Regions from separate parts of the Homo sapiens genome. Here region 2 is linked to region 1. Evidence: fine-mapped expression QTL. A gene starts in region 1. The other region holds a variant in brackets. All regions are shown on one strand. Distances are from middle to middle. Region 1 holds the start of FRRS1 (ferric chelate reductase 1). Region 2 overlaps FRRS1 (ferric chelate reductase 1).

Evidence for each region. PIP is the estimated chance that this variant, and not a neighbour inherited with it, causes the effect.
Region 2: its variant is fine-mapped to the expression of FRRS1 in monocytes after LPS (Quach 2016, PIP 0.95).

Annotation. Positions count from the first base shown.
Region 1 is chr1:99,764,920-99,767,839 of GRCh38, forward strand. FRRS1 (ferric chelate reductase 1) reads right to left here and starts at 1,716. Exons shown (of 17, transcript NM_001361041.2): 1 at 1,688-1,716.
Region 2 is chr1:99,742,709-99,745,628 of GRCh38, forward strand. The region is part of intron 4 of FRRS1 (ferric chelate reductase 1); the gene reads right to left. Among named protein-coding and RNA genes, the nearest start is that of FRRS1, 22 kb to the right of the region's middle. RefSeq lists a silencer at 2,405-2,699. The variant T/TAAAA (reference allele first, on the strand shown) is at 1,356.

The DNA of each region.
Region 1 (2,920 bases):
TTCCTAATAAATTTTATCATGTTTTTCTGCCACATTTGGTGACTTGTCTTTTGGTAAACCTCTGGATATCAGTAAAGGTGTCCTACACATTGATCTCCATTCATTCTGACTAGCAGACAACCTTCAAAACAGTACTCATACAGTGTGATTGTTATGTGAATTTTGAGAAAATCCAATATTAAAAAAGCTGACAGGTGTGAAACAGAGAGTACACTTCACCAAAAAAATCAACATACTGGCTAACTAAATGACGAACTAAAACTCACTTCTCCAACCTAACAAAACCATCTCTTAAAAGGTCTTTGTTTTCAATAAGCTGATAGATCAAATTAAGCCCCCAACTTCAGTTCTATCCCAGTATAATACTCAAATCTTACCACTTTTTTAAAAATACAGAAGTGGCTGGGCGCGGTGGCTCACGCCTGTAATCCCAGCACTTTGGGAGGCCGAGGCAGGCAGATGACCTGACGCTGGGAGTTCGAAACCAGACTGACCAACATGGAGAAACCCCGTTTCTACTAAAAATACAAAATTAGCCGGGTGTGGTGGTGCCTGCCTGTAATCCCAGCTACTCAGGAGGCTGAGGCAGGAGAATTGCTTGAACCCGGGAGGCAGAGGTTGCAGTGAGCCGAAATCCCGCCGTTGCACTCCAGCCTGGGCCACAAGAGCAACACTCCGTCTCGAAAATAATAAATAAATAGGCCAGACGCGGTGGCTCAAGCCTGTAATCCCAGCACTTTGGGAGGCGGAGGCGGGCATATCACGAGGTCAGGAGATAGAGACCATCCTTGCCAACACAGTGAAACCCCGTCTCTACTAAAAATACAAAAAATTAGCCGGGCGTGGTGGCGGGCGCCTGTAATCCCAGCAGTATACTCAGGAGGCTGAAGCAGAAGAATCGCTTGAACCCGGGAGGCGGAGCTTGCAGTGAGCCGAGATCGCGCCACTGCACTCCAGCCTGGCGGACAGAGCGAGACTCCGTCTCAAAAATAAATGAATAAATAAATAAATAAAAATAAAAAATAAAAATACAGAAGCAAATGAAAATATCTGAACTGAAAAGTTTAGCTATGTTAAGAAATATTCCTAATAACACATTTACAATTTGAAAAATCCCCTTTACCCTTTAGGGCAGTATGACAAGCACACACAAAAATAAGTGCAGTGATAACACCTTGCCACCCTGGAGTCTTTCTGAAATTTTAACGACACACCAGGGCTAGGGAGTGGGAGGGTAAGGGGACTAAAAGTTCTAGATAAAAAGCCACTTTAAAAACCAAATAAGGTTCTAAGTGACCCTGATATAGGTAACCATGCCACTAGCTTTAAATATAAAAAAAGAGTTCCTACAGTTTTAAATTTAAAATTAAAAACAAAAAAAAAACTCCTGCAAGAATAAAGTCAATGATTTTCAGGATCCCAAACACGTCTCTACTTATAACCACCCATATCTTGGAATTAAAGCTTGTTAGTCAAAGTCACAGGACATATTAACCTAACTCGTTAGTGAACACTCATTAGCTCAATTCAAGCTCCAGAACATAGTTTCGGAATACAGCACCCGTTCTGCCTGGCCGACTGCCCTGGTCAGCACAGGCACTCGCTCTCCAGTCTGTCGCTAAGCTGGATTTGATTTTTAACGCTTTACAAAGAGCTTTGACATTAAGGAAAAAGACGTGACACTTACCTTGAGAAGCGAAGGCAGCCTAACCAACTTCCGGTTTTGTTACAACTTGTATCACATTTCAGCAGCTGGGTGGAGCCAGTTAAGCCTTGAGCCAAAAGGGAACCTTTCCCAAACTAAGCTGCAGAACTTGATTTGCAAGACCAGTGCTAGTTTTAGGACTCCATTTCTGAAAACTTAGAATTCTGTTTTACACTAAGGAACAGTGTTTGCCAACTAGTACCTACTTCGCCACAAAAATTATAGTTTTTGTGTTTAATTGCAAAACTATTTGAAAATACCTGTTCTATAATAGTGCTAAGTAAAAGCAAATTAACTTTTAAAAAGTGGAAAAAGATCAGATTGCATAGAACCGAAACCTTTCTGCAGTGTGAATGATATAATGCAAAAGAAATCTTTTATTTTGCAAATTACCCCTGAAATTTAGGAGTTTTGTTTCTTTTTAAGCCTTTAATCTGTTTCACAAGACTCTTTTGCAAAAGAAAAATTTTAGGGCTAGGAAAAGACAATGTAATTGAATTTTTAACAATCTTTGTTTTTATTTTGTTTTTTGTTTTCCTGTTTTTTACTTTTTTTCTTCTCTTTAATGTAATTGAAAATATTAAACATTCCATTTCAGACCTTGAGTGACATTGTAATTGCCCAGTGGGTTCACCTTGCCCGCTGTCTAGACAGAGCCGATTTATCAAGACAGGGGAATCGCAATGGAGAAAGAGTAATTCACGCAGAGCTGGCTGTGCAGGAGACCGGAGTTTTTTGTTTTGTTTGTTTGTTTGTTTTGTTTTGTTTTGTTTTGAGACGGAGTCTCTGTCTGTGGCCCAGGCTGGAGTGCGGTGGCATGATCTCGGCTCACTGCAGCCTCCCCGTCCTAGGTTCAAGCGATTCTCCTGCCTCAGCCTCCCCAGTAGCTGGGACTACAGGCGCCCGCCACCACGCCCGGCTAATTTTTGTATTTTAGCAGAGACAGGGTTTCACCATGTTGGCCAGGCTAGTTTGGAACTCCTGACCTCAAGTGATTCCACCTGCCTCAGCCTCCCAAAGTGCTGAGATTACAGGCATAAGCCACCGCGCCCAGCCCGGAGTTCTATTATTACTCAACACAGTCTCCCCAGGATTCGGAGATCAGAATTTTTAAAGATAATTTGGCGGGTAGGGGCTTGGGAAGTGGGAGTGCTAATTGGTCAGATTGGAGATGGAATCATGGGGGGTCGACGTGAGGTTTTCTTGCTGTCTTCT
Region 2 (2,920 bases), 22 kb before region 1:
ATGCACCTGGCCAACTCCTACTCATTCTTTGAGGCCTTACTTGAAGTTCACCTCCTCCAAGAAGCTCTCTCCCAATTCCTTCCAGGCTGTGTGTGGCTCTCTCTGCTATGCTTCCCACTCACTGTGTATGCTTCTAACCAAAGTTATCACACGGTTCTACTTATGTGTTCATAGATGTGCTTATATGTAAAGTAAGGAGTTCTTCAAGGAGCAAGAGTAAGTCTTGTCCATCACCTATCCCTCCCATTCAGGACCATTTTTGGTGTAAAAATAAATGGATGAATGAGTAAATAAATGAAAAAAAAATTAGACTCCTGTCATACTCTAGATCTCTGTCTTCAATATTAAAACCCTTCAAAAATTAATATAATTAAGAGCCAATATTCATATAAAACATCACAAGCTATAAATTCTTCAAACTACTTTACCTTTTATAGGGTGCTGATGTGTAAAAACATATTGCACATAAAATTAAGGAAAAAGTCTGATTGTTGTAAATCCATTTAGATGTTTACAATACATGGTTAATGTCATCATTTATCTTGCAACCACCACCTTATAGTGAAAAGAACCCCAAAAAAAACTGACAGAGAGCAATTTCAAACTACAGTTGACCCTTGAACAACACAGGTTTGAAGTGCATAGGTCCACTTATATACAGATTTTTTTTCAATATATATATTAGAAAAGCGTTTGGAGGTTTTCAACAATTTGAAAAAACTCAGACAAACTGCATAGGCTAGAAATATTGAAAAAATTAAAAAGTTAGGTATGCCTTAAATGCACAAAATATATAGGTATTAGTCTATTTTATCATTTACTACCATAAAATATGCACACACCTATCACAAAAAGTTAAAATTTATCAAAACATACATACACAAACAGACCACACATGTGCCATTCACAGAGACATATAAACAAATGTAAAAATGCAGTATTAAATCATAACTGCATAAAATTAACTGTAGTTGGGACTACAAGCACATGCCACCACACTCAGCTAATTTTTGTATTGTTTTGTAGAGACGGGGTTTCGCCATGTTTCCCAGTCTGGTCTCAAACTCCTGAGCTCAAGCAATCCACCAGCCTCAGCCTCCCAAAGTACTGGGATTAGAGGGATGAGCCACTGCACCCAGCTTTTATCGTGTTTTGTGCACTACTGTAAACCTTGAATAACACCATGGGGCCCATACGAAGTGCCACTAGTGATGCGGTAAGAGTTCTCAAGAAGCAGAGAAAACTCATGACATTACAAGAAAAAGCTGAATTGCTTGATATATACTGTAGATTAAGGTCTGCTGCTGCAGTTGCCCGCCATATCAAGATAAATGAATCCAGTATAAGAACGATTG[T/TAAAA]AAAAAAAAAAAAAAGAAAGAAAAGAAAAGAAAATTCGTAAAGCTGTCACTGCAGCTATGCCAACAGATGCAAAAACCTCACATTTTTTGTGAAAGACCTTTTCATCTCATATCGGAAATGCAGCTTTTATGCAGGTGTAAGAATTGCTGTAAGAAAGGGATACTTATAGACTAATATTATTCAAGAAAAAGCAAAGTCATTATATGACAACGTAAAGCAAATGGAAGGTGAAGGGTCTAAAGCTGGAGAATTTAATACCAGCAAAGGATAGTTTGATAATTTAGAATAAAAGTTTGGCTTTTAAAATGTCAAGATAACAAGAGAAGCAGCTTCTATTGACCAAGAGGCAACAGGCAAGTTCCCAGGCGTCATTAAGAAAATCATTGAAGATACCATCCCGGCTAACACGGTGAAACCCCATCTCTACTAAAAATACAAAAGGCCGGGCGCAGTGGCTCATACCTGTAATCCCAGCACTTTGGGAGGCCAAGGCGGGCGGATCACCTGAGGTCGGGTGTTCAAGACCAGCCTGACTAACATGGAGAAACCCCATCTCTACTAAAAATACAAAATTAGCCGGGCGTGGTGGCACATGCCTGTAATCCCTGCTACTCAGGAGGCTGAAGCAGGATAATCGCTTGAACCCAGGAGGCGGAGGCTGCGGTGAGCCAAGATCCCTTCATTGCACTCCAGCCTGGGCAACAAGAGTGAAACTCCGTCCAAAAATAATAACAATAATAATAATAATACAAAAAATTAGCCGGGCGTTGTGGCGGGCGCCTGTAGTCCCACCTACTCGGGAGGCTGAGGCAGGAGAATGGCGTGAACCCGGGAGGCGGAGCTTGCAGTGAGTTGAGATCAGGCCACTGCACTCCAGCCTGGGCGACAGAGGGAGACTCCGTCTCAAAAAAAAAAAAAAAAAAAAAAAAAAAAGAAAGAAAGAAAAGAAAATCATTGAGGAGAAAGTGTATCTGCCTTAACAGGTTTTTAATGCAGACAGAAGTACCCGATTTTGGAAATTAATGCCACAAAGTCACTTATTAGTAAAGAAGAGAAGCAAGCACCAGGATTTAAGGCAAGAAAGAGCAGGCTATCTCTACTGTTTTGTGCAAATGCAGTCAGTTTATGATCAGGACTGCTCTTACCTATAAAGCTGCTGGCTGCTAATCCCCGAGCCTTGAAGGGAGAAGATAAACATCAGCTGCCACTGTTTTGGTTGTTAACTACAAGAAGTCCTGGACAATAAGAAATCTTTGTCTGGATTGGCTCCATGGACGTTTTACCTCTGAAGACAAGAAGCACCTTGCCAGTAAAAGACTGCCTTTTAAAGGTTCTTTTGGCCGGCACGGTGGGTCATGCATGTAATCCCAGTGCTTTGGGAGGCCGAGGCGGGAGGATCAGTTGAGGTCAGGAGTTCGAGACCAGCCTGGCCAACATGATGAAACCCCATTTCTACTAAAAATACAAAAATTAGCCATGCATGGTGGTGGGCGCCTATAATCCCAGCTACTCAGGAGGCTGAGGCAGGAGAATCACTTGAACCCAGAAGGCAAAGGCTGCAGTG